Homo sapiens: one gene and its partners. The protein of the gene in region 4 interacts with the protein of the main gene of each other region in a pairwise test. Each region holds a gene or a part of one and is shown on either strand. Other genes may lie near its edges. The genes, in order: SLC35B2, CLEC7A, CMTM7 and TEX29.

The links.
Region 1: the proteins of TEX29 (region 4) and SLC35B2 interact in binary tests that used the Homo sapiens proteins (3 or more experiments, as listed by UniProt).
Region 2: the proteins of TEX29 (region 4) and CLEC7A interact in binary tests that used the Homo sapiens proteins (3 or more experiments, as listed by UniProt).
Region 3: the proteins of TEX29 (region 4) and CMTM7 interact in binary tests that used the Homo sapiens proteins (3 or more experiments, as listed by UniProt).

The regions. Positions count from the first base shown.
Region 1 is NC_000006.12:44,254,506-44,262,104, reverse strand, and holds the start of SLC35B2 (adenosine 3'-phospho 5'-phosphosulfate transporter 1), read left to right. Parts: upstream 1-4,576; 5' UTR 4,577-4,694; coding exon 4,695-4,705; intron 4,706-4,816; exon of another isoform or gene 4,817-4,923; intron 4,924-5,226; coding exon 5,227-5,420; intron 5,421-5,608; coding exon 5,609-5,763; exon of another isoform or gene 5,764-5,767; intron 5,768-6,460; coding exon 6,461-7,399; 3' UTR 7,400-7,599. Other genes in the region: NFKBIE (NF-kappa-B inhibitor epsilon), read left to right, coding at 257-479, 1,566-1,654, 1,823-2,062, 2,821-2,886. UniProt on the Homo sapiens protein: Probably functions as a 3'-phosphoadenylyl sulfate:adenosine 3',5'-bisphosphate antiporter at the Golgi membranes.
Region 2 is NC_000012.12:10,120,194-10,127,217, forward strand, and holds part of CLEC7A (C-type lectin domain family 7 member A), read right to left. Parts: intron 6,516-7,024; coding exon 6,378-6,515; intron 5,256-6,377; coding exon 5,104-5,255; intron 4,981-5,103; coding exon of another isoform or gene 4,894-4,980; intron 3,171-4,893; coding exon 3,052-3,170; intron 1-3,051.
Region 3 is NC_000003.12:32,436,842-32,443,865, forward strand, and holds part of CMTM7 (CKLF-like MARVEL transmembrane domain-containing protein 7), read left to right. Parts: intron 1-4,998; coding exon 4,999-5,172; intron 5,173-7,024.
Region 4 is NC_000013.11:111,337,638-111,344,661, reverse strand, and holds the end of TEX29 (testis-expressed protein 29), read right to left. Parts: intron 5,369-7,024; coding exon of another isoform or gene 5,224-5,368; intron 4,800-5,223; coding exon 4,730-4,799; intron 1,907-4,729; coding exon 1,731-1,906; intron 580-1,730; coding exon 539-579; 3' UTR 414-538; downstream 1-413.

The DNA of each region.
Region 1 (7,599 bases), on a different chromosome or scaffold from region 4:
GGCCTAAGGTGACTTACAAGAAAAGCAGAGAGCTACTTTCTTCACCTTGCTTCCAGAATTGGGATCCCAAGAGCTTGGTGGGGGAGGGGTGTGACAGGGGAAGGGCTCGGTAGTATTTCCTTGGAAGAACAGGTTATGGCCTTTATAAGCTGCTTTCAAAGAAGATGCTGGCAGCTGGTGATTCTTGAGCCCAAGCATGTTCCCAGAGGTGGGAGCATGCTGCAGTGGCCCCATGACCCTCTATTTGTGCCTCCAGACAGCACTCCATCTGGCTGTACATCTGGACCAACCGGGCGCAGTTCGGGCACTGGTGCTGAAGGGGGCCAGCCGGGCACTACAGGACCGGCATGGTGACACAGCCCTTCATGTGGCCTGCCAGCGCCAGCACTTGGCCTGTGCCCGCTGCCTGCTGGAAGGGCGGCCAGAGCCAGGCAGAGGAACATCTCACTCTCTGGACCTCCAGCTGCAAAACTGGCAAGGTGTGGACAGTCTTTAAGACTGCCCTTAGGGCCTGTGGGATGAGGAGGGCATAGGAGATAGGGACCTCACTCTTGGGGAAGGGAGGGTCCCAGCTTGTCCATTGGTGCCCCTCCCACTGTAAGCACATAGATATTCAGTACATCTTTGCCAAATGAATGAATGGATGATTTGATTTCGAATTTAACCAGTACCTACTGCCTGCTGAGAAGAAAACTAAATCTTGCCCTTAAGATACTTAGTTTAATAGAGATTAGATGACCTGATTCATTCATTCAACAGAAATGTACTGAGGGTTTTCTATGTGCCAGACGTTATCCTAGGAGCTACACTTGCATCTGTGTGCAAAATAGAGAAAGATTGAGATGAGCAATAAATGTAAGAAGTGAACTATGTAATATGTTAAAAGGAAGTAAGTGCTGTAGTAAAAAGCAGAGCAGAGTGAGAGGAAGGAATGTGGGGAGTAGGAGAGTTGATATGATTGTTAAATAGGGTGGTCCGGGAAGGCCTCATGGAGCCAGTGACATCTGAATAGCGCCCTGAGGAAGGTGAAGAATGTAAATTTGAATCGAAATCTCTATTACTAAGCAAGGGTCGGGAGTGTCCAGACTAGAAAGGAGAGCAAAAAGGCCAGGGGAGCACAGAAGGAAGCGGCCCCTGAGAAAGGGCTGGGGGCATGAGGATCTTAGGTGGCTTTTCAGAAAAGGTGGCTTTCAGACTGGGCTTGAAGGCAGGTTGTGTGTGTGTGTGTGTGTGTGTGTGTGTGTCTGTATGTGTGTGTGTGTGTGTGTGTGTGTGTGTTGTAGTTTGTGTATAGGAGGAGGGTGTTCTTTGGGGGTGTCACTCAGCAGCCTGACCCCTGAAGCATGAAAGTTTCAATAACATGACTCTGAAAAGGTGGAAACTTTGAGTTCCTTTCCCCTTAGACTTTTGAGGGGGTTTTGGGGTTTGCATTTTAACAGTCTTGTGATTAGAGACATTGAGTGGGCTGTGAGTCCCTTGGGGCTGAGTGGTAGGGAGGTCCCAGAAGAGAGGGAGTTGGTGGATGCAGATCAGCAGCCCTCACCCTCACTCTCACCCCATCCCAGGTCTGGCTTGTCTCCACATTGCCACCCTTCAGAAGAACCAACCACTCATGGAATTGCTGCTTCGGAATGGAGCTGACATTGATGTGCAGGTGAGACAGCCAGCAAAGCACTGCCCGGCCCAGGGCCTGCCCCCACCTGACACATCCCCAAGTCCCCTGCCCAGCAGTCAGAAGTGGTGGCATTCACTTCCTTATCCAGAGCCCAGGCCCAGCACACTGCCTCTGAGGGCCTTGGCTGACATCCTTATTCCTCCCCAGGAGGGCACCAGTGGTAAGACAGCGCTGCACCTGGCTGTGGAAACCCAAGAGCGGGGCCTGGTACAGTTCCTGCTCCAGGCTGGTGCCCAGGTAGATGCCCGCATGCTGAACGGGTGCACACCCCTGCACCTGGCAGCTGGCCGGGGTCTCATGGGCATCTCATCCACTCTGTGCAAGGCGGGTGCTGACTCCCTGCTGCGGAATGTGGAGGATGAGACGCCCCAGGACCTGACTGAGGAAGTAAGTGGCATATGCTTTGCTCTCCAGGGCCTTGCACACCCATAGCAGAGAGAGGTTCTGTCATTAGCTGAAAGGGCCAGGGAGCCAGGAGTCCTGGGGTATAACCAGGACTCTGCCACTGACCAACTGTGGGAACTTGAGCCTGTTTCCTTAGTTGGTCCAAGGAGCCAAATTTGGACTCTTACAGGGACCCTGCAGTTAAAGTGAATCAGTGAAGTTGGCCAGATATGAGACCATGGTGTGGTGAGGCCTATAAGAACCCAGAGAGCCATCCCTGAGGGTCTCTGTACTCAGCTTCAGCAAAGGCTTACAAAGCAGGAGTGTAGGCCCAGTTTTTCCTGGTCTTGGACTTTCTTGAGAGGTGAAACTCAGATTTTCTGTACAGTCTTTCCTATTTTTAAATGTTCAGTGTAAAAAAGAAACCTAAATGTTCTGCGAGTACCCAGCAGCCCCCCCACCCCATCCCCCAACAACAACAAACAACTCCAGGTCCATGGGCTGGATCACCTCTAAGGGTCCCTCCTAACTCGGATATTCTGGCATTATCTTAGAAAAGGAAGGCTTGTCTAAGTCCTCAGGGCTCTGCCAAGCCCAGAGGGGCCACTATTTTGAGGATTCGTGTGAAGATTTGTTCCCTGATGGTCTTCAACTGTCATTTGGTGGGGAGGGAGTGGCCCAACAGGTTTCCCTGGGTCCCCTTTCCCAAGTCACCTTTTCCCATGTCCTCTGATCTTGCTTCTCTCCATTCTCCTTCTCAGTCCCTTGTCCTTTTGCCCTTTGATGACCTGAAGATCTCAGGGAAACTGCTGCTGTGTACCGACTGAAGCCAGGCAGGGTCTGGGATCCTCAGGGCTCCACCTCTCCATCTGGAAGCCGGAGCCATAACTGCTGCAGTTTGGGCCCAGGCTATGTGCTCTTCTGGTGCCCTAGGGACTGCTGTGGCCAGAGCCTGGGGCCAGCCAGTACAGTCCTGAGCCGAGGAGGAGGGACTGCAAGTGGAAGAGAGCCAGTCTGGAAGGAAGAGCTTTCCAGGTGGACAGGGCTTCTTGGAAGACCCCCAAAGCCCCAGGTATCCTGGGTGAAGCCTGTTTGCCTCTCTTGAAAATGGCAGGTGCTCTTGTTTTACCCATGTTGGGTCAGCCTGAAACTGCCAACCAGTAGGAAGCATGGACTCTCCTGAGTGAGAAGAGACTGAAATAGGAGCAAGCAGAACCCTGAGAGGTGTCCCATCTTATTGCTGTTGAGGACCCTGAAACACCGTTGTTTAAAGACTTCACACAGAAGGCTCTGAACTGAGCCACTGGGGAAGGGAAGTTTCAGTAACATGACACTAAAATGGCAGAGACGTTAAAAAAAGTTTTTCCCTTCTAGAGCTGTTTTGCGCGCATGCATGTCTGTGTGCATTGGGGCTTTTTAGACAGGCCTGCCCTGTGACTTTGTGGTAGAGGCAGAGAGAAGGAAATTGTCCCCTGAGCACGGTAGGGCCTTGCTGGGTGGGGTCAGAGGCCAGTAGTTCCAGGCCTTTCTCTGTGTCCAGCACAGACCCTTGTCCTTGCTGTGGAAATGATGAGGGATGGAGGGACAAGAGGAAGAATGAGAGGACACACGCCCTGGAGCCCTCACCACTGCCCTGGGGGTTGCCATCTGGAGGAGCCTGGGGATAAGGGTAACCCAGGGAGGCTGGGCACGAGGGAGCTGACTCCACGTTTTTCCCCCCGTTCCTCACCTTCGAGGGCCCTGCTAGGTCACCCCTATGCTGGCATGAAGAGCATGGGGCAATAAACCAGCACAGTCTCTGACCACTTGGAGCGTCTCATCCAGTGAGAGAGACAGCCGTTAAAAGCATAAACATCCAAATAAAGATGCCTTTCCAAGTTGCAGTGGGTGCTATGAAGGGAAAAGAATAGTGGGAAGGAAAAGGATGGAGTCGGTAGAGGGTCATACTTTGGGTGGTCCGGGAACCCTCGCCTGAGGAGTATCATCTCAACTGGGATGTAAGGATGAGTAAAGGGATGGGGGCAGAGCATTAGGGGGAAAGCCTGTGAATTAGAGGAACTGAGAGCAAGCCAGTGGGGCTTCACAGCGGGCGAGTGAGTGGGCGAGGAACGCGGGCGAGGCCATGTAGAGCCTCGAAGATCATGGGAAGTGGGACAGAATTACTACCCAGCCAACAAAGCAAGGAGACACCTTCATCCTGTCAGAAAACGGGGAAACTAACACAGAGGAGCGGCTTGGGATGCAGAGCCTCAATGTCCTGTCCACAAGATGGCAATGGTCACCATGACCTCTGGGACGCTTATGAAGGGCGATGACGAAGCACAGGGGACACGCCGGGCGGGCGCCTCTTCAGGGCTGGGGCTCCCCGCGCCCAGGGGCAGCCCAGGTCCCCGGAACCCAAGCCGCGTCTGCCTCCGGGCCGCGCGGGGGCGCTGTGGTCCGGCGGCGGCCCGGGGCGCTGCGTGGTCGCGGCAGGGGCGGAGGGGGCCGCGGGGAGGGAGGCGGGAAGAGCGCGGCACTTCCGCTGGCCGCTGGCTCGCTGGCCGCTCCTGGAGGCGGCGGCGGGAGCGCAGGGGGCGCGCGGCCCGGGGACTCGCATTCCCCGGTTCCCCCTCCACCCCACGCGGCCTGGACCATGGACGCCAGGTGGGGGCTAGGGCAGCAGCGAGCTCACGTGACCGAGCCCCCGGGCCACGTGACTGCCGCGCCTCAGCACGGGGGCCGGGTGGGGTCCCGGCTGCTCGGCCGTCGGCCAGCATATCGCTGCCCGGAGCCAGCGGGGATGGGAGCTGCGGCTTGGTTTTGTGCTCCTTGGGGAGCTTCGGGCGGAGGGGCTGGGGACCCTGACGTCCCGGATCGTGGAGGGGAGTGTGGGGGAAGGGGCGCTTCCTCTGACCTGAGCAGCCGGCTAGCGTTGGAGGGAACAGAGGAGACCTGTGTGGCCAGAGGGGCGGATCCGCCCCCGGGGAGGGAGGAAGCTCTGCCTGGCCAGCGCCGGCGCACCCCCTCCCCGAGAGAGAGAGAGAGAGAGAGGCTCTTTGTCCGGGCCGGAGCTGCAGCGGAGGGGGCGGGGAGGAGACTCCGGGCACTACTCCAGTGTGGTCCCCTCTGGAGGGCGGAGGGGATGAGGAGCTGCGCCCTAATCCTTATGTCCGCTTTCCTTACAGATGGTGGGCAGTGGTGGTGCTGGCTGCGTTCCCCTCCCTAGGGGCAGGTGGGGAGACTCCCGAAGCCCCTCCGGAGTCATGGACCCAGCTATGGTTCTTCCGATTTGTGGTGAATGCTGCTGGCTATGCCAGCTTTATGGTACCTGGCTACCTCCTGGTGCAGTACTTCAGGCGGAAGAACTACCTGGAGACCGGTGTGTGAAGAAAGGGCGGGGAAGTGAGCTAGGTCGGGAAAGAGGGTATTTGGCCAGCAGTCCAAACGGGATATGACTTGGAGAGGGCGGGAGGTCGGTAGGCCGGACAGCAGGGCAGGCTGGCTGCTCTGGGGAAGATGAAGTGCTATGGAGAAGATTTGGGGCTTGACTTTGTGTGCTTTCTTCAGGTAGGGGCCTCTGCTTTCCCCTGGTGAAAGCTTGTGTGTTTGGCAATGAGCCCAAGGCCTCTGATGAGGTTCCCCTGGCGCCCCGAACAGAGGCGGCAGAGACCACCCCGATGTGGCAGGCCCTGAAGCTGCTCTTCTGTGCCACAGGGCTCCAGGTGGGTAGGTGGGCTCAGCCTCTCTTCCTGGGTTGGATGCCGGTGGGCAGGGATTCTGTGAAGGTTTCCATTTTACCAGTCCCAGAGCTTTGCTGGCTGGTGTGTTTCGTGTCCTCCTCCCAGGGGCACACTGCACCTCCATCTTTGAGGTGTTTGGGGGAAATGCCCTTTTGTTTCTTCCTTTTCTCCTCTCCAGCACTGGTACTGAAAGTTCATGCTGTTATTTCAAGATGTCTAGTGCAGAAGAGAGGACTCCTCTTGCCCTATTCTCTGTGATTTCTACTGTGCCGTTATTATACTTCCTTCCTGCACTGGTGTCTCACATACTGTAAACCCACTGATAAAATTGTGGGGGAGCCATTCAGCCTTCCCCCAGTACTGCATGTGAGAGAGTGCTAACATGCTGACCCCATGGCATTTTGCAGTGGGTACTAGTTCCACCTTGAATATCATGTTGAACTACAGATACCCAATTCTGAGAGTTCTTGCCTCCCTGAATAGGTTTTTCACACACAGTTGATTCCCTACAAGGTGAATCCAGACTTAGGAGGGGAGAAGAAACTTCTACAGAGGAACCAAAAAGTGTATATTTTCCTTTGAATCACTTAGGCATAATCCTGAAGAGAGAGAGGTCAATTTTTGTCTACCTTTTCATTATCTTGCTTATTGTCTCCTTTGTCTCTACCTTCCCCAACAGGTGTCTTATCTGACTTGGGGTGTGCTGCAGGAAAGAGTGATGACCCGCAGCTATGGGGCCACAGCCACATCACCGGGTGAGCGCTTTACGGACTCGCAGTTCCTGGTGCTAATGAACCGAGTGCTGGCACTGATTGTGGCTGGCCTCTCCTGTGTTCTCTGCAAGCAGCCCCGGCATGGGGCACCCATGTACCGGTACTCCTTTGCCAGCCTGTCCAATGTGCTTAGCAGCTGGTGCCAATACGAAGCTCTTAAGTTCGTCAGCTTCCCCACCCAGGTGCTGGCCAAGGCCTCTAAGGTGATCCCTGTCATGCTGATGGGAAAGCTTGTGTCTCGGCGCAGCTACGAACACTGGGAGTACCTGACAGCCACCCTCATCTCCATTGGGGTCAGCATGTTTCTGCTATCCAGCGGACCAGAGCCCCGCAGCTCCCCAGCCACCACACTCTCAGGCCTCATCTTACTGGCAGGTTATATTGCTTTTGACAGCTTCACCTCAAACTGGCAGGATGCCCTGTTTGCCTATAAGATGTCATCGGTGCAGATGATGTTTGGGGTCAATTTCTTCTCCTGCCTCTTCACAGTGGGCTCACTGCTAGAACAGGGGGCCCTACTGGAGGGAACCCGCTTCATGGGGCGACACAGTGAGTTTGCTGCCCATGCCCTGCTACTCTCCATCTGCTCCGCATGTGGCCAGCTCTTCATCTTTTACACCATTGGGCAGTTTGGGGCTGCCGTCTTCACCATCATCATGACCCTCCGCCAGGCCTTTGCCATCCTTCTTTCCTGCCTTCTCTATGGCCACACTGTCACTGTGGTGGGAGGGCTGGGGGTGGCTGTGGTCTTTGCTGCCCTCCTGCTCAGAGTCTACGCGCGGGGCCGTCTAAAGCAACGGGGAAAGAAGGCTGTGCCTGTTGAGTCTCCTGTGCAGAAGGTTTGAGGGTGGAAAGGGCCTGAGGGGTGAAGTGAAATAGGACCCTCCCACCATCCCCTTCTGCTGTAACCTCTGAGGGAGCTGGCTGAAAGGGCAAAATGCAGGTGTTTTCTCAGTATCACAGACCAGCTCTGCAGCAGGGGATTGGGGAGCCCAGGAGGCAGCCTTCCCTTTTGCCTTAAGTCACCCATCTTCCAGTAAGCAGT
Region 2 (7,024 bases), on a different chromosome or scaffold from region 4:
ATGGTGTCAATGGGTCTGTAATGAATGTAACTGGGATTCCAGGAGAAGGGAAAAAAGATGGGGAAAAGCAAAATATGAAGCAAGTATGGCTGAGAATTTTTCAGTGCTGAGTAAACACATTAGTTTTAAAACATATATTACCTTCAAACAGATGACCTCTCAAAAACAACAGTAAAAAATAGAAAACAGTGGAATAATATATTTGAGTGGCTGAGAGGAAAAACAACAAACCTCTAATTCTATACTTACTGGAAATATCAGTCTTAAGAAAAAATACCTGTAATGTACAGTTGGAAAGGAAGAAAGAAATAAACAACTAAAATCATAAATATGTGGGCAAATTGAAATGAATACTAACTGCATAAATCTGTGCGCCACCTTGTCTGTCTAATTTTTATATCTTTTTTTTTTTTTTGTAGAGATGGGGTTTCACCATTTTGGCCAGGCTGGTATCGAACTCCAGAGATCAAGTGATCCGCCTGCCTCGGCCTCCCAAAGTGCTGGGATTATAGGCGTGAGTCCCCGCGCCCGGCCCAAGGGCTAGTTTTTTCTTTTTTCTTTTTCTTTTTTTTTTTTTTTAATACTGAGTCTGGCTCAGTCACCCAGGCTGGAGTGCAGTGGTGCGATCTCGGCTCACTGCAACCTCCGTCTCCCGGGTTGAAGCAATTCTGGTGCCTCAACCTCTGAGTAGCTGGGATTACAGGCGTCCACCACCACACCCAGCTGGTGACGCATAGCTGTAGTCCCAGCTACTCAGGAGGCTGAGGTGGGAGAATCGCTTGAACCCAGGAGGCAGAGGTTGCAGTAGGCCAAGATTGCCCCACTGCACTCCAGCCTGGGCGATAAAATAAAAATAAATAAATAAAAATAAATACATTAATATAATAGCATATAAATTGAGGAGAGAGTCAACAGAGTAAAGGAATGCTCTATGATTTTTATATTGGTCAGGAAGAACATAAAAATGTCAGTTAATGTTAGTCTTTGATGAGTGAAGTATACATGTGTAATTCCTAGAACAACTACTAAAAGATTAGTAAAAGAGATGTAAAAGACATGAAAGAGCACATTCCAAATGAACAGAAAAAAAAAACAGAATAAGAAAAAGTGTTAAATCGTCCAAAAAGGAGGAAAGAAAGGGGAAAAAAAGTAACAATTCTAAATCTTTATGTGCCTGATAACACGGCTTCAACACATCGAATAAAATGTTTACAGAACTGTAAGTAGAATCGCAGCGGAAGATTTCAACACAATTCTTTTCATATGGAAAGAGGAAGAAGCACGTAAAAATCACAGAACTACAAGCACGTGGAGCATGTTCTCTGATCACAGTGGAACTAAGCCTGAAACCTAAAACAAAGAGATAACCAGAAACACATATGTTTGTAAATTAAGAAATGCATTTCTAAATAACTCCTGGGTCAAAGAGCAGCTCACAGTGGAAATCAGAAAGTATTTTGAACTGAAAGACAATGAAAATACATTAAAATTATAGCCTTAAGTCTACATACTTGAGATAAAGGAAGGCTTAAATTCATGAGGCAAGCACCCAATACGAGAAGTTTGAGATGGAATAGCAAATTTAAAACAAATAAATTAGGTCAGGAGATCGAGACCATCCTGGCTAACACGGTGAAACCCCGTCTCTACTAAATATACAAAAAATTAGCCGGGCATGGTGGTGAGCGCCTGTAGTCCCAGCTACTCAGGAGGCTGAGGCAGGAGAATGGCGTGAACCCGGGAGGCGGAGCTGGCAGTGAGCCGAGATCGCCATTGCACTCCAGCCTGGGTGACAGAGTGAGACTCTGTCTCAAAAAATAAAACAAAATAAAATAAAAATAAATTAGATGGAAGGAAGTAATACAGATTAGAATAAAAGTTAATGAAAGAAATAATAAAAAGACAGAGTCAACAAAGTCAAAAGTTACTTTCTTTGAAAAACCAAATTGAACGGTACTCCTACTGAGACAGATGAAAAAACACACACAGGTGTGCACACACACACTAATAATAAGAACTTAAAAGAGACATATTTCATATTCTGCAGATATTAAAAAGCAAATGAATGACAACAGCAGTGACAGAAACCACATAATAAGGAATAATGTATCATCAGGCAAATGTGAAATACGTTTAAAATATCTTTCTAAAATGCAAAATGTGAAAATGTGGTTGCTTTTTAACTTAATAATAAGTCTCACACATTAACTATGTACAAGACACTGTGCTAAATTATTTTACTTTTATACCCATCTCACAATTCTAAGAGGAAAGCACTCTTTCTTTTTTTCTTTTTTTTTTTTTTTTTTTTTGAGTTGGAGTCTCACTGGAGTCTCACTCTGTCATCCAGGCTGGAGTGCAATGGTGCAATCTCAGCTCACTGCAACCTCTGTCTCCCAGGTCCAAGCAATTCTCCTGCCTCAGCCTCCTGAGTAGCTGGGATTTCAGGCAATGCCACCACACCCGGCTAAATTTTTAGTGGAGGTGGGGTTTCACCATGTTGGTCAGGCTGGTCTCAAACTCCTGACCTCAAGTGATCCGCCCACCTGGGCCTCCCAAAGTGCTGGGATTACGGGTGTGAGCCACCACACCTGGCCAAGAGCACCTTTCTATTCTTGTTTATGGAAAATGGGACTCAGAGAGGAAAAGTGACTTATCCCCAGTGTCACACAATCAGTGAGTGGGGTAATCATTAACCCAAACTGAGGCCTGGCTTCAAAACCCATGCTCTTAACCGGGGAGTTACACTGACTGACAGTGACTGCTCCTTGCCTGGACAACTTCAAACATGTCGATGCCTCCCTAGTAAGAAAACCAGAAGAATATCTGTGTTGATGCTACTAGATGGCCTCACTCTTTTTCACTCTAAGGTCCTCCTCATCTTTCTCCTCTTGTCCTAGTTCACTCTTTCTCTTCTTCTATATCTTTCTCCCTCTCTTTCTCATATATGGTGAGCAAATCAGGTTCTTAGCTGCTCGACAGAGGTTTTCATAGATGAGATGGAAACCTCTCTGAGAAAAAGGATGAAGCATTGTCTCTCCAAACACTTACAAGTTAGAAGAGAATGTTGATCCATCCTCCCAGAGCCATGGTACCTCAGTCTGGGGCCGAGAAAGGCCTATCCAAAATGAATTATCAGGTTGGGAAGACACTTGTTTTACTATAAATCCCTGTAATGAAACATATACAAATATATAATAAAGAGAGAGAGAGAGAGAGAAAGAAACTATTATCATGGACGCTGAGAAAAAGACAACTGATTGAATCACTTTGGTAAAGAATGCAAGGCCGGGCGCGGTGGCTCACGCCTGTAATCCCAGCACTTTGGGAGGCCGAGGCGGGTAGATCATGAGGTCAGGAGATCGAGACCATCCTGGCTAACAAGGTGAAACCCCGTCTCTACTAAAAATACAAAAAATTAGCCGGGCGCGGTGGCGGGCGCCTGTGGTCCCAGCTACTCGGGAGGCTGAGGCAGGAGAATGGCATGAACCCGGGAAGCGGAGCTTGCAGTGAGCCGAGATTGCGCCACTGCAGTCCGCAGTCCGGCCTGGGCGACAGAGCGAGACTCCGTCTCAAAAAAAAAAAAAAGAATGCATGCCTAACCTGACATCAACCTAGAGAGAAGTGCCAATTTTTGAATGTCATTGAATGTCTCAAAAGGCCTATCTTATTTATTTAAAGTAATTATCATTTAATTTTCCAAAAGAATAGATTTGTAATGTGAGGACTGTACTGCCTCCATTCAACCTATCTGACAAAATCCCAGATGACAGTCCCCCTAGGCAGTTTTCATGGATGATTAGCCATTGTCTTCTCCTCCAATTGAAGAAATAAATTGACGCTACTTTCGTTAAGAAGTACTTCTCAGAGTTAGGTAACAACTTAAAAATAATTTAGTCCAACTGTATATTTTATGAATATGTAATCTGAGGTTCAGTGAAGATATCTGAATTGTTTACAAATCTATAACAATTTATTTTCAATTATAGGCTGGCCTAAAAGTCAGATAGACTTGTAATCCAGTACTCTTTCTTTGCCATATATCTAGTTCCATTAACTTTAATATAAATTATTACTACTGGGTAAGACATTACAGAAACAAAAACAAAATAAGAATAGTGAAAGTAGGTGTAGAAGTTATAGACTGGTTTAGATTTATAACATAGAATTTTTCCTATTAACCCCTTATCTTACCTCATTGAAGCTCTACCCTTCATTCATGATGTGTTATAAGTGCCACTTTTTCTGAAAACTTCTTAGGAACACGGGGATCTCTTTAAACTCCTATAGAATTTATTGCTAATGCCAGATATTTAACTTTTAATAGCTGCTGAGTTGCTTTTTTTTTACTTAAAAGATTATATGTGTCCTGTGATAGCAGGGTTATGTTTTAACCCTCTTTGCCTTTCCCAGTATCTTGCAAAGAGTAAATAATTTCTAAACATATATTATCATTGTTGCCATTTTTCTTGATAATTATGATGACAAGGAGAAGAATTTTCTACTTTACTTCCACCATATTTAAAAATTGAAATACAAACTCACAAAAATGGGTAGTGTCCTGATTATTGTAGTCATGCATACATGGAGTATGTTTGAAAGGATTTGTTTTAAGGCGAAACACAGTTTTTTAAATTAGTTAAAAATAAAAGCATATACTATGCACTTTATGTGCTTAAGGCATGCTATGATTATAATTATAGAGATATTAAAAATGAATTTTGGCCAAGTATGGTGGCTTACACCTGTAATCCCAACACTGGGAGATCGAGGTAGGCAGATCGCTTGTGCCCAGGATTTTGAGACCAGCCCAGATGATATGGAGAAACCTCGTCTCTATGAAAAATACAAAAAAACATTAGACGAGTGTGGTGGTGCACCCTGTAGTCCTACCTACTCAGGAAGCTGAGGTGGGAGGATCACTTGAGCCTGGGATGTCGCGGCTTCACTGCACTCTAGCTTGGGCAACAGAGTGAGACTCTGCCTCAAAAAAAAAAAAAAAAAAAGACTTCATTTTAGGAAAAATTGTCATTACCTGGAATCTCCCTCTATCTTCCTTCAGGATACACACCACAGATAATCATAACAGAAGTCTACACTTACCAATTCATTTGAGCTGTCTATCTTTAGGAGATTAGAGCCCAGTTGCCAGCATTGTCTTTTACTTCCATCCCAGGAATTTAGTGACATGCTGAATAGATAACAGCTCTTCTCATATATAATCCAATTAGGAGGACAAGGGCTGGAAAGAACCCCTGGAAATAAAAGATTAGTACCATGAGGTTCATAGCATACCAATTCACTCTTTTAGTGTGAACACCATTCATCTTAAGGACACTTATGAAATAACCAATTAGTTGCCATTTTTATATTTCATTGTCAATTCGAACTACAGGGATATGATTTTACAGATGAGAATACATTAAAATCTTCCTATTCATTTAAAATTTAAAAACAAACTAGCTATAAATAGTATTTTAGGCAGCCAACCATCCTTTTTTTCTTCACTTGTCTTCTATTCCTTCTAATTCAGCTCAAAACTACCTTTCTCCTTAATAACTCCTTAAAATAAGTCCACTCACAATCAGTCATTGAGGTACACAGCAATTTCATATTGCTACTTATTTTATGATGTAAGATCTACTTCATAATGTGACTTTCCAAGTGAGAAAAGTATAGGCCAATTATTCATATTATACACTATCTCTGTTATATATTATTAGCTACTTAATAAAAATAGTGAGAAGGTATGGGTCCAGAGATGAAAAATTGAACTGAAAACATTAAGTCATAGTCAATTATGATGCAATTAGAAGTAAAAGTCAAGTGTGTATAGAATTGTAATTAAGTAAATGAAATTGTATGATTAAACAAATTTGATGAGTTTTCAGGGACATGTGTATTAGGTCTACCTCTTTTGTATATTTTTAATATAGCTTCCTTATTCTTGGCAACATTTTCCCTTCTTTCCTTTCTCCCTGTCATTCTTCCTTTCTAATGTCATATTTCCTATTCTAACTGTATCGCATTTAAAATGTCAATTCTGTAAGGGGAGAGAACACTTTTCTTTTATTTGTATCAAATTATATGATCTCCTGTAGATCTAAGCACATAGCCAGTGATAAATCAGTTACTGATTTTAAAAATTAATAAAGTCCAATTTAGAACTGTCCAGCCAACTGCATAGGGTACTTATAATTTCACCTTATTGTATATATGACAGGGATACATTACACTAAGGTAATACTAATATGTGTATTTGCCTTAAATTTACAATCATTGAATCTAAGTGTTTTTCTTTACACCCCTGCCCCAGGCTTCAGCACCAAGAATTAACCCTCTTGAGTCAAGATTCCGTCCTTTAACTATGCCCTTGCCTGTGGTTTTGACAGCTTTGGTAGGAGTCACACTGTCTTCTAAAGATGATTGTGTGGGTTGACTGTGGTTCTCTTTATTTCTTGATAGAAAGTAGCCATTCTCCAATGTGTTGCTTCCTGAATTGGATCTCCAAATAGCTTCACATACCAACAATAATAATAGTGACAGAAAAAATGTCATTCTGCTGTGTTTGAAAATTAAAATCCCAAAACCCAAATGTTATTGGAATAAAAGAATACATTATTGATTAATGATAAATAGATGATATATTGCTGTGGAGAGATAAAGACGATTGATAGAATAGATGAAAAGAAATACATAACTTTTATAAAGGAGGTATAGTAAAAAAAAAAAAAGAAAAGAAAAAAGAAGGTGGAGAAGAAGAAATAGAATGAGGGAGGCAGCAAGAGGCAAATGTCATAGAGTCAATTGGACCCATGACAGATTTGAAATAGCAACATCTTTCACCTTTCTTCTGTTATTTAAAAATGAGAGATCCTTGAGAAACTGCCCAGTACCTATAACATAGAACGCACTCAATAAACATTTGACTAATTAAGGAATGTCATGAAGACTCTCTGAAGGTGACTGACAACAGATTGCATGTGATATAAAATGTAAAAAAAATATTAATCCATTACAAAAT
Region 3 (7,024 bases), on a different chromosome or scaffold from region 4:
CAGACACCTCCCCAGCCCAATCAGAAGCCGACGTCTCTTGAAAACTGCCTCTTGAGTTTTCTGTAGAGATTTTTCATCGTAGACCTCAAAATCTCATTTCTTTCTGGAAGGATGCTCAGCCAGGCTGAGAACCTGGGCAAACTTTCTGGCACCTGGCTGGTTGCGGGTGTACACTCAAGCTGCAACCAGACTAGTTTGGTTCCAGAGTCCTCAGGGGACCATCACTTTTCTCAGATCATGTCAGCTTCCTTCATCTCTTGTGAAATTTAAACCCTCTGCTCCTTCCAAAAAATCATGTCTTCTTTCTAGTAAGAATTCTGACAGAATGGAGTCAGAAAGGACACAGGTTCCAGGGAGTGATGTTTCTTATCTGGAATTCTAATTCCAGTGATTCTGTGGTATCATGGCTGGTCTGTGGGACCCTTGCTTTGAGTTGAGGGCTCTTGCAGTGTTACTTTTAAACCCCTGGACATGGCTGGGCACCGTGGCTCACACCTGTAATCCCAGCACTTTGGGAGGCTGAGACGGGTGGATCACTTGAGGTCAGGAGTTCGAGACCAGCCTGACCAATATGGTGAAACCCTGTCTCTACTAAAAATATAAAAATTAGCCGGCCGTGGTGGTGCACACCTGTAGTCCCAGCTACTCAGGAAGCTGAGGCAGGAGAATCGCTTGAACCCAGAAGGCAGAGGTTGCAGTGAGTGGGGATAGCGCCACTGCACTCCAGCCTGGGTGACAGAGTGAGACTCTGTCTCAAAAGAAAAAAATAGGCCGGGCGCGGTGGCTCACGCCTGTACTCTCGACACTTTGGGAGGCCAAGGCATGCAGATCGCAAGGTCAGGAGATCGAGACTCTCCTGGCCAACATGGTGAAACCCTGTCTCTACTAAAAATACAAAAATTAGCTGGGCATGGTGGCGCATACATGTAATCCCAGCTACTTGTGAGGCTGAGGTAGGAGAATCCCTTGAACCAGGGAGGTGGAGGTTGCAGTGAGCTGAGATGTTGCCACTGCACTCCTGCCTAGCGACAGAGTGAGACTCCATCTCAAAAAAATAAAATAAATAAAATAAACCCCTGGACATTTATGTTAGATATTTTATTTTTATGACAGTTCAATATAAAAGAACAAACCGTTACGAGAGGAGCTAGAAGGCACCTTAAGAGGCAAGTGAACCCTTTGGACAGCATCACTTTGAAGTTACTCTACACAGAAACATCTGTCTTCCAGGAGCCTCCCAGCTGCTTCACTCCGTCCTGAAGTCAGAACCCCTACCTCCAGTCCTCTCTGAATTCAGGCGTGTTTGTGCATTTGCTTTTCTAACTGGGAACACGAAGACACCTGAGAGGGTTGGAGCTGGCGGGAGGAGGGCAGGGATAAACACCCCAGCGCCTTTTCCCCACTATTGTCTTGTTCTTTCTTCCACTTCACCTTTGCTTTCTTTTTTAACTTGTATATTAAGTTCAGGGGTACTTGTGTAGGTTTCTTATATGGTAAACTTGTGTCATGGGAGGGGGTTGTTGTACAGATTATTTTGTCACCCAGGAATTAAGCTTCTAAATAATTCAGGGGGCCCCAGCATTTGCAGAAGTTACCTACTGGCTTTAGAAGAATTTCTGAAAAGTTTGATGTCAGTCAAATCTTTTTTTTTTTTTTAACTTAATATGCTGGCTAAGATGCTGGCTATTTAAAGTTGGAATGAATGAATCCCTGGGCAAAAAGGAAGCTTTTAGGAGCACGCATAAGCACACACCATACTCTGGCTAAATTAGATTTTCTAAAATTGGGCTTTCCTAAAGAAAGTCATATGGTAGATGGCCATAGGCCCAGTGAACCGAATTCAGAAAGTGTTATTTCATGAGCAAGTTTCCCAGAAAGGTTCGAGATGTTTCTGATAGAGCAGGAATGTACTTCCTACTACACAGTACTCAGCCCTGGAGGCTCAGAGCAGGAAGACCTGACCTGCACAGGCCCCTTTTGTTGGCTGGGAAACTTCCACATCCCTGTGTCACCATGAAAAAGAGCTAACTTTGTCTTCAACGACGAGTTGGAAAATTATTTTAATCTCTGCATTAAACTAGATGCAAAATTGCCTCTCTACCTAGGAATCACGCTGCATAATCCCACATTATCTGCATTTTCAGTCATGCCTTGAATAATGATACTTGAGTTCTTGAGGAGGTCATTGTGGGGCTGGGAAGACCCCTAGACTTCCCCATGTAGATGTGGCCTGGAAGTAAGACTAACGTAGCAGCAAAGCCCTGGCGATCATGCACACTCCTGAGTAAGGCAGAGGTGTGAATCATTATATCACCATGGCTGGCTAGCTTCAGAGGAACCGAAAAAATGAAAACACTTGCGTTGCTCATTAGCAAAGGGAAATACACAAATGTTGAGGGACTCTTTGTGTCACAGCCACACTCTTCTGTTTCGATCTGGTAAGCAGAGCACTCTCCATACCTGCTTCAAGCTTCCAGCTGAGAGTTCTCTTTTAGCTGTTGTACCTATTGCTGAGGATCTTGATAGTGGGCTAGCAACAAGGGGCTTTAGAAAATAAGAGCATTTCAGCATCAACTGTTTTAACTGGAGTAAGATCCATTTTGTGATTTGATTTGATTTTTATTTTTTTAGAGACAGACTTTCACTCTGTCTTGCAGGCTGGAGTGCAGTGACGTGATAATAGCTCACTGCAACCTCAACCTCCTAGGCTCAATTGATCCTCCCACCTCAGCCTCCCAAGTTGCTGAGACCACAGGTGCATGCCACCACGCCCAGCTAGTTTTTGTATTTTTTGTAGAGACAGGGTCTTGCTTGTTGCCCAGGCTGGTCTCAAACTCCTGGCTTCAGGTGATCCACCCGCCTTGGCCTCCCAAAGTGCTGGGATTGCAGGCGTGAGCCTGGGATGCCAGGCATGCACCAGGCCCCATTTTGTGATTTAATTCTCATTGTAGACTGACATTTTCTATAGCAGAATTTTTCAACAGTAGTACTGTAGTTGAGGGGCCACATTTGGGGCTGGAGATGGGTAACTCTTTACTATGGGAGCTCTCCTATTTATTGCAGGGTGCTTAGCAGCACCCTGGGCCTCTACCCACTAAATGCCAGTAGCAACCCCCATCCCCGCAAATTGTGTAAACCAAAAATATATACACACATTGCCAAATGTCCCATAGGACACAAAATCATATACCCATACGCTAACACACCCATACACTAACACCACACGCATACACACACACACACACACACACACACACACACACACTTTAAGACTCGCTGCTCTGGCCAGGCGTGGTGGCTCACACCTGTAATCACAGCACTTTGGGGAGCTGGGGCAGGCAGATTACTTGAGTTCAGGAGTTTAAGACCAGTCTGGCCAACATGGTGGAACCCCCTCTCTACTAAAAATGCAAAAATTAGCTGGGCATGGTGGTGCATACCTGTAGTCCCAGCTACTCTGGAGGCTGAGGCAAGAGAATCGCTTGAATCTCGTAGGCAGAGTTGCAGTGAGCCAAGATCATGCTACTGCACTCCAGCCTGGGCAACAGAGTGAGACTCCATCTCAAAAAAAAAAGAATCACTCCTCCATAGGAGAGAGGCAGTGTATAAAATAATCTTTTTTCTAAATTGGTTGTGCATTTTAAATAGATTCCTGGCTGGAAACAATGGCTTACGTCCATAATCCCAGCACTTTGGGAGGCCAAGGCAGGGGGATTGCTTGAGCTCAGGAGTTTGAAACCAGCCTGGGCCACATGGCAAAACCCCGTCTCTACTACAAATATGAAAATTAGCCAGGCATGATGGCACACGCCTGTAATCCTAGCTACTTGAGAAGCTAAGGTGGGAGGATGACTTGAGCCCAGGAAGCAGAGGTTGCAGTGAGCTGAGATTGGTTCACTGCACTCCTGCCTGGGGAACAGAGCCAGACTCTATCTCAGAAAAACAAAAACTAAATAACTAAATAAATAAGTAGATTCTAAGATTTTACACACATTGAATCCCGTGTGTTACTGGTTTGTTCCCTACATGGAGTAGACAGGTTTTCTCTTTGGCCTTCACGGAAGCTCAGACTGTTACTCATTCTACTTTCTTGTACTCATGCATTGCTAATAGTTTTCATCTGGTTATTAATTCAGTAGCAGGCCGTTAAGCATGTTCACTCGTGCTGAGATATTTCTTAGTGAGCTCTCACCACATGCCCTGATGGTGAGCAGCCTCACCTCTTAAACAGGATTCCTGCATGGTTGAGAACCCGTCCACCTTTCTCGGCTTGTTATGATCAGAGCTTACACTTTTGGGAGGTAGAACTGCATCTGACATGGAGGAACATGGTCCTTAGAGTCAGACAGACCTGGATTCAAATCCCACTTCTGCTTACAAGCCAGATAGCCTTGGACTGATGATTGAACCTGCATGCCTCCGTTTCCCCTTATGAACATGGGGATGATTTTGTCTACCTGGCAGGGTTCTGCATGGCCTTAGCGAGATCACGTATGTCAGACATCAGTAAATGGTAACTTGTTATCTGTCAGTTGATAGCTGTAAGGTATGAATTACCATCTTTGTAGGTCAAAAACCATCAAATATTGGCAACTTCGTACAATTGGGCCTAATATGTAAACCCCAGGTCACCATCACGCTGTCCTCTTTGCTCTATGGATATCCAGCAGATGAAAGGGATGGTTCTGCTTTGTTATTTTCTTGTTTTCCTGCTTCTTCTGAGGGGGCTTCCCGCTGGCACAATCTAACAAACTTCAGAGAGGACGAAGTCAGTCTCTGCTGTCATCAGTGTTCACAGACAGTAGTTTCAAAGTGTGTACCACATGAAGTTGCAGTCTTCCAACCTTCCAGCCAGTGTGTATGGAAATAACCTGAATTGTATTAATAGCAGTTCTTCAATGTGGGCCTGCTGGGGGATGCTTGGTTGTTTTCCGTTGTTTGTTCCCTGGGTGCCCGTCTTGGGCAAGCATTTCTCTGATGTCTCTATTTATGTGGCAGGTCACCCTGCTGATTGCCTTCATCTGTGTGCGGAGCTCCCTGTGGACCAACTACAGCGCCTACAGCTACTTTGAAGTGGTCACCATTTGCGACTTGATAATGATCCTCGCCTTTTACCTGGTCCACCTCTTCCGCTTCTACCGCGTGCTCACCTGTATCAGCTGGCCCCTGTCGGTAAGAGAGTGGTCTGGCCCTGTCCTCCGCATGCACAAGTCAGGATGTTAGCTAGAGTACTGAGACCTGACAGAGTTTTTCCCGTCTGCCCATCTCACCTCTTTAACCATTCTTTGCTGCCTCTGCCCTGAATTTCCTATTGTTTGGTGGACATCTCTGCTTGATGTCCTGCTGGTTTTTAAAACTCACTTTCCAGCTACAAGAAGGCTGTGGCTGGCCGGGCGCGGTGGCTCACGCTGGTAATCCCAGCACTTTGGGAGGCTGAGGCGGGCGGATCACGAGGTCAGGAGTTCGAGACCACGGTGAAACCCCGTCTCTACTAAAAAATACAAAAAATCAGCCGGGCGTGGTGGCGGGTGCCTGTAGTCCCAGCTACTCAGAGAGGCTGAGGCAGGAGAATGGCGTGAACCCGGGAGGCGGAGCTTGCAGTGAGCCGAGATCGAGCCACTGCACTCCAGCCTGGGTGACAGAGCGAGACTCCTCTCAAAAAAAAAAAAAAAAAAAAAAAAAAAAAGAAGAAGGCTGTGGCTATTGCCCCATGCTTACTTTCTCAAGCAACAGAGAATGGCTGTGTGTGTATGAGTTGGGAAAAGGAACACGGAAGGAAATTGTAGGTGAAGATGATGGGTATTGATGCTGTTGTGAGGATTGAATGATAGGATTTTCTGGCTAAAAGAGACTAGTGGGGGCTGAGGAGACAGTCAGAAGTTGCCAGACTTTTTCTTCCCACTGTATTATTTTTTAAAGCTTCATTGAGATGCAGTTCATATGCCGTATTGTTCACCCATTTCAAGGGTACAATTCAATGGAGTTTAGTATATTTCCAGAGTTGTCCAACCATTACTACAGTCAACTTGAGAACATTTTCATCATTTCAGAAAGAAATTCCATACCTTTTAGCTGTCACCTCCCTACCACTCATCCCTCCAGTCCTAAGCAATCACTAATCTTCTGTCTCTAAAATTTTTCTACTCTGAACGTCTCATGTAAATGGAATTGTATATGTGGTCTTTTGTAACTGGCATCTTTCACTTAGCTGAATGTTTTCATGGTTCATCCATGTTGTAGCAGGTATCAGTATTTCATTCCTTTTTTTCTTTTTAGAGACAGGGTCTCACTCTGTCACCCAGGCTAGAGTGCAGTGACGTGATCGCGACTCACTGCAGCCTCAACCTCCCAGGCTCAGGTGATCTTCCCACCTCAGCCTCCCGAGTAGCTGAGACTACAGGTGCATGCCACCACACCTGGATAATTTTTGTGTTTTTTTTTTTACAGAGATGAGGTTTCATTGTGTTGCCCAGGCTGGTTTCAAACTCCTGGCCTTAAGCAATCCTCCCACTTTGGCCTCCCAAAGTGCTGGGATTACAGACATGAGCCACCATGCCAGCCTTTTTATAACCAAATTTTATTCCATTGTGTGGATAGACCAGACTGCATTTTGTTTTTCATTCATCTTCAGTGGACCTTTGGGTTGTTTTTACCTTTTGGCTATTATGAATAATGCTGCTATGAGCATTCATATACAAGTTTTTTGTGTGGACATATTTTCATTTTTCTCTGGTATGTATCTAGGAGGGGAATTACTGAGTCATATGGTCACTTTGTGTTTAATTGTTTGAGGAACCGCCAGACTGTATGCCAAAGTGGCTCACTGTTTTACATTCCCACCAGGAGTGTATGAAGGTTCCAGTTTCACAACATCTTTGCCAACACTTATTATCTGACTTTCTGATTCCAGCCATTCTAGTGAGTGTAAAGTGTTATTTCCTGTGGTTTTGATTTTCATTTCTCCAGTGACTAATGATGTTAATCATCTTTTCATGTGCTTTTGGCCATTTGTATATTTTCTTTG
Region 4 (7,024 bases):
CCGGCCTGCGCGTGCCTGTGAGCATCTGTCGGCCACTCTGGGACTGAGCGCACTGCCTTGCATGAGGGGCTCTCAGGCAGCTACGGCCTATGCTTTGGGGCCTCTCAGATCCAGATCCAGACGCTGCTCCTCCCTCGCAGCACGGCTGAGTCCTAGCAAAGCCAAATGCCAGAGTCTTGAACCGCCTGTGTCTGTGTGGCAGCCCACTCTTGGTGAAAGTGCAGCCTGCCTTCTGAAAAGAAGACCTCGAGGACACCACCTTGAGCCCATGCTGTGAGCCCCCATAGTGTTAATATTAGTGACAAGCAGTGCCATTAAAAACTGAAAGTTCAGGTTCCCACTCTCCTACCCCACAGGCTTTCTCTCTCCTAAGATAAAAATATAGCAATGAATAAGCAACATCGGACGAGAAGCAATTTTCAAAATACCTTTATTTTTTTCTCTTTGGGTGGTCATTCCATCACACTGTTAACAGTGCACCTGCTGTACCATTTCATTTGGATAATTCTGACAATCTCCACTTCTTCATGCGTCTCAGTCAGTCCTCAGTTTCTTCGGCTTCTGTTATTGTCCCTGTTACTAGATTTTTAGAAAAGAAGAATTGTTTTTTCAAATGGAATATTCAGCAGTCCCGAAAAGATTTCATCAGGATCTTTGAACCCATCTACATGGTGTCTGATTGGCAATGATTGATTCAAAAGCCAGTTTTGGGGATGGCCGTATCCTCCTATGTTTCTCATTGCATTCTAGGGGACAGTAAAACACTCTTCCTCCCACATCATCTCTCTACACAGGAGGCTCCCTTAACCAGGCAAACATCTGTCCTGCAGGAAAGCCTCATTTGCACAGACGCAGCCTCAGTTAGGGGCCAGGCATTCCAGATCTGAAATCAAGTGTGGGTTGCCCTCTTACCCTGCCTCCTGATTTTCCTGATGGTCCCTGTAAAGCCAAGTCTATTTGGTAACAATGGGTAAGGCCAGGCCGTTTGTATCCTGTACAAACATCTCTGAAGATAAGGATTACCATTTGAGATGTTTCTTTCTCTAACCTGGCAAGGTGCTGATCTAGGAAAAGCAACCGGCAACCTCCAAGGGCCCCCAAAGCAGGTAAACCAACATATGAGAAACTTTCCTTCCTGGAAACCGAAGCAGGCATAGAGTGATCGTCCACCTCTCCAACCACGACCACCACGTGGCCAGGGCACCACAAAGAGTACCCACAGCAGCCCTGCAGCCTCCCCGCACATCCACGACCACCAGGCGGCCAGGGCACCACAGAGAATACCCACAGCAGCCTGGCAGCCTCCCTGCACAACCAAGACCACCACGTGGCCAGGGTGCCACAGAGAGTACCCATGGCAGCCCTGCAGCCTCCCCACAGGAAGTCACCTGATCAAATGTGCAGTTTCTGCAGGACTCTTGCCCCCTCCCCAGGAGCTTCCCACACTAACAATGAGGGCCCCGCCAGAGGGTGAAATGACAGGGAGGCAAAAGGGGATGGGAAGGGGGAGGACAAGACTCACAGAAGGAAACTCACACTGACAGCCACATCCACCCTGCAAACCTGAACCTCCAATGTTGGGTACATTACAATTTTGAACAAACTGCAACACTGATCACTGAGGTTGAAGGGCCTGTGTAGATGTTGAGCCCCTTCCCAGGGAAGGTCTCCCGAGGGAACAGAGCCACGCCCTTGACCTTAGGCTGAGGATCATTCCAGAAGCTTCTCACCATCATCCTTATCCTCGTCACTCTTCATCGAGGGCCCAGCACTTGGAGGCCCAGGACTCGCAGGCTTCAGCCCTAACTTGCTGCTGGATGAGGCCAACTCCGCCTTTTCGCTGGACTTCTGTGGCAGCGCGACATCCACAGGGATGGCCTTTTCTTTCCTGCTCTCCTGAATGACTCTGATGGGAAGAGGGTTTTATCACAGTCAGGGAAGTTACAGATGGAAAACTCTCCAGTTCCTCCCTCCCACCCACCAGGACATCCCTCTGAAAACACAGGTTCCTGATCATGCATACTTATTTTTTAAGGTAAATGCTTTGATGTAATAGTTCTCATTTTCGTTTCTTTCTCTCTCTCTTTTTTTTTTTTTTTTTTTTGAGACAGTTTTGATCTGTCATCCAGGCTGGAGTGCAATGGCACAAACACGGCTCACTGCAGCCTCCAACTCCCGGGCTCAAGTAATCCTCCCACCTCAGCCTCCCAAAGTGCTGGGAGATTACAAGTATGAGCCACCACATCCAGCCTCATTTTAGTTTCTTGTGCAGGCTCCAAACAGATGGCTGTATGAGGCAGCTAGACTCCCAAAGACAGCTCCGGGCAGGGGGAAGGTGTGTGTTGCACTGCAGGCTACTGCCGGCTCATCTTCATGATTAACACACATAAGACAGCATACAGCACCACTCATGGTAGGAAAATGGCTTTACTCATTCCTGGACAAAGAGACTCAAATAATCTCAGGGGCTTGTATGCACACAGAGTGGGCTCATGGTGAAGGTGGTGGCCGGGGAGTGAGATGCTGGATTCCAGCCCTGCCCTGGGAATAGCCACCTGCTTCCTTGGCCCCCCGGGTCTGCATTTCCTCACCATTAAAATGAGAGGGAGTGGACTCATCTCTGAGACACCTCCAAACCCTGACACCCTGCAATGAGGACGCAGGCCACAGGCCAAGAGATGCAGGCAGCCTTGGGTTCAGGGACTCTGAGACAACTGGGAGCCTGAGTTAGAGCCTCACTGCCCCATCCATCAGCCTCGGGACCCCCTCGATGCTGCGTCAATCATCCCAGTCCGGGGACAGTAAGTTCACTTACATCGTCAGTGGCTTCAAGGGCTGAAAAGGCTGAGCAGAGCTCTTAAGAGTCTTAGGTGCTCACTAAACACGGGTTATGATGTTCATCAACAAGCACAGGTGCTCACTAAACACGGGTTATGATTTTCATCAACAAGCACAGGTGCTCACTAAACACGGGTTATGATTTTCATCAACAAGCACAGGTGCTCACTAAACACGGGTTATGATTTTCATCAACAAGCACAGGTGCTCACTAAACACGGGTTATGATTTTCATCAACAAGCACAGGTGCTCACTAAACACGGGTTATGATTTTCATCAACAAGCACAGGTGCTCACTAAACACGGGTTATGATTTTCATCAACAAGCACAGGTGCTCACTAAACACGGGTTATGATTTTCATCAACAAGCACAGGTGCTCACTAAACACGGGTTATGATTTTCATCAACAAGCACAGGTGCTCACTAAACACGGGTTATGATTTTCATCAACAAGCACAGGTGCTCACTAAACATGGGTTATGATGTTCATCAACAAGCACAGGTGCTCACTAAACACGGGTTATGATGTTCATCAACAAGCACAGGTGCTCACTAAACACGGGTTATGATGTTCATCAACAAGCACAGGTGCTCACTAAACACGGGTTATGATGTTCATCAACAAGCACAGGTGCTCACTAAACACGGGTTATGATTTTCATCAACAAGCACAGGTGCTCACTAAACACGGGTTATGATTTTCATCAACAAGCACAGGTGCTCACTAAACAGGGGTTATGATTTTCATCAACAAGCACAGGTGCTCACTAAACACGGGTTATGATTTTCATCAACAAGCACAGGTGCTCACTAAACACGGGTTATTATTTTCATCAACAAGCACAGGTGCTCACTAAACACGGGTTATGATTTTCATCAACAAGCACAGGTGCTCACTAAACACGGGTTATGATTTTCATCAACAAGCACAGATGCTCACTAAACACGGGTTATGATTTTCATCAACAAGCACAGGTGCTCACTAAACACGGGTTATGATTTTCATCAACAAGCACAGGTGCTCACTAAACACGGGTTATGATTTTCATCAACAAGCACAGGTGCTCACTAAACACGGGTTATGATTTTCATCAACAAGCACAGGTGCTCACTAAACACGGGTTATGATGTTCATCAACAAGCACAGGTGCTCACTAAACACGGGTTATGATGTTCATCAACAAGCACAGGTGCTCACTAAACACGGGTTATGATTTTCATCAACAAGCACAGGTGCTCACTAAACACGGGTTATGATGTTCATCAACAAGCACAGGTGCTCACTAAACACGGGTTATGATGTTCATCAACAAGCACAGGTGCTCACTAAACACGGGTTATGATTTTCATCAACAAGCACAGGTGCTCACTAAACACGGGTTATGATGTTCATCAACAAGCACAGGTGCTCACTAAACACGGGTTATGATTTTCATCAACAAGCACAGGTGCTCACTAAACACGGGTTATGATTTTCATCAACAAGCACAGGTGCTCACTAAACACGGGTTATGATTTTCATCAACAAGCACAGGTGCTCACTAAACACGGGTTATGATTTTCATCAACAAGCACAGGTGCTCACTAAACATGGGTTATGATTTTCATCAACAAGCACAGGTGCTCACTAAACATGGGTTATGATTTTCATCAACAAGCACAGGTGCTCACTAAACATGGGTTATGATTTTCATCAACAAGCACTCTGGAGAAAATCAGTGGGGCCCTCCGTGAGCCTGGCCAGTTCCCTTTCCCAGGCTCACGGAGAGCTGTTCTCAGTCACCCCAGCAGCACCAAGCCCGAAGGAGCCCAGGCAGGCAGGAAGCTGCGGCCAGGAGAGGTGAGTCCCCTCCTCCCCACCCTCCCAGTAAAGAACAAAGGGACCGACCTGTAGATGATGGTGATGACGAAGGCCCCAGCGATGATCACAATCAAGGCAGAGAACACGTGGATGTAAACTGAAAAATGGTGGGATTTGAAGTCATTTCGATCCAGGTAAATAGAAAAGGAAGAAGATGAAGAAAAGGCAACCCTCCCAGAGTCGGGTGCGGGCCCTCCCGGCGCGGCTGCCCATGGTCAGCACTCCTCACCCACCCTCCCCAGCGTCTCCTGGAGACTCAGCTCTGTGGACATCTCCAAAGGCCCCCGCAGGCAGGCGAGGGCTCCCTGTGAAAGGCAGCTCCAGGTGGTAGTCAGTGCCACCCAGAGGACACCTTGTGACCACCCTGACCCCCGGGAGTGCATGGAGAGACGGCACTGGGTCCTGACCCCCGGGAGTGCATGGAAAGATGGCGCTGGCTCATGACCCCCGGGGGTGCATTGAGAGACGGCGCTGGCTCCTGACCCACGGGGTTGTGCTGAGAGATGGCGCTGGCTCCTGACCCTCGGGAGTGTGTGGAGGATAGATGGTGCTGGCTCCTGACCCCTGGGGGTGCGTGGAGAGATGGCGCTGGCCCCTCTGTTCCTGCTGTGCTCCCCAGCTCCCTGGAAATGGCTCCTCAATGCCCAGGTCAATTCCTCCCCTAAACTGAATACAAGGAAAACACTTATTGGATCATAGACAAATCCTTGACTGGGCTTCCTTGTATTAAAAGGGGTTCCTGCAATCCCCAAGTTTCCCGTGCCTTCTCCAACCCAGCCTCAGCAAAAGTCAAGCCTCCCCAGGTGGCCACGAGGGGCAGCCCCGCCACCCTGGGTTTCCCTGCGTGAGTGCACTCCCAGCCTCTCCAAGACGGGGGTAACTGGGAGGAGGAACTGCTCAGCCCCCTCCTGAGCCTCTTTCTGAGAGACTGCCCACTGCTCAGCAGGCAGGGCCCTGTCTGTGCAAGAGGCCTGAGGGGCGCAGCACCGCCCAGCACCGAGGGCTGATATCTGGATCTCCGTCGGCTCATTGGTTCAGGACTTGGACCCCTCAAGTCCTAACATTTGTACACGAGCATCATTCCTCTCAGAGTCCTTGGTCAAATAATATCCTCATCTACTGTTTGTTCTTCTATGTTCCTTCCGTCAGGTTGATGTAAGGAATTTTTTAATGAATGCAAGTAAAGTTCTTAAGTGGTTGGCTAATCACATATACAGAGTAATTCTTATTGTTGTTATTATTATCAATATTAGTCTCTTCTCTAATTGCTTTCTTACTCTCTCAAAGAAACTGGCTGACTTGCAAATATCAAGTGCAGGTGACACGATTTGCTTCAATTCCCATACCTCCCCTCCTGCTAAACTGCTTCCAAGTCGTGAAGCAGTAACAACACCATCAGATGTAATTTCCCTGGATGGTGTGTCAGTTTGCCAGGGATGCTGTAAGAAAGTACCATGCACTGGGGGGCTTAAAACAATAGAAATTGATCATCTCATGGTTCTGGAGGCCAGAAGTCCAAGAACAAACTGTCAGCAGGGCCGTGTTCTTTTCAAAGGCTCCCGGGAAGGGTCCTCCCTGGCTTCCTCCTAGCATCACAGCAGTCTCTGCCCCTATTGTCACGTGGCTGTCTTTCCTCTGTCTCTGTGTCTCTTCTCTTTTTACAAGGACACCAGCCATTTTGGATGGAGGGCTCACTCTACTCCACTATGATCTCATCTTACCTAATTACACCTGCAAAGACCCTTTTTTCTAAATTAGGTCACATTCACAGGTACCAGGGATCTAAACTTCAACATATGCATTGGGTGTACACAATTCAACCCACCCCAGAAGCAAGGCCGCAGGTGCAGAGAAAGTGGCCTCCTGGGCACATGAGCCAGCTTCCGAAGGGATCCGCACTCCCTGGACTCATCACAGGGCCACCAGCAATGGATGAGGTGCCCAGGATTCTTTCCATGGGGACTGAAGTCAGAAAACTGAGAGGGGATTGAAGCCAGCTTGTGAGGGTAACCCACATCCTCGATTTTCCTCATACCGAGGTGACCTCAGTAAGGAATGGTGAAGTACCCAATGGGCGCTCGATAAGAGTTCCTCACAGAGAGGCTGGAGGAAGGGAGCGAGGCTTGGGGTTGCAAGCTGTCAGATAACAGGAATGTGCATGTACCGAGGAGCACACTGGGAAACTGCTTGTCAAACATTCTTCCAATCAGCTGCCTTATTTCTTTAAGTGAGGACTGTCCCGTGGAAACTTGCTTACCTGAGGAGGGGAAACAGTGGGGCAGACTCACCTCCAAATATCCGGGGCTACCATAACCAGCTTCC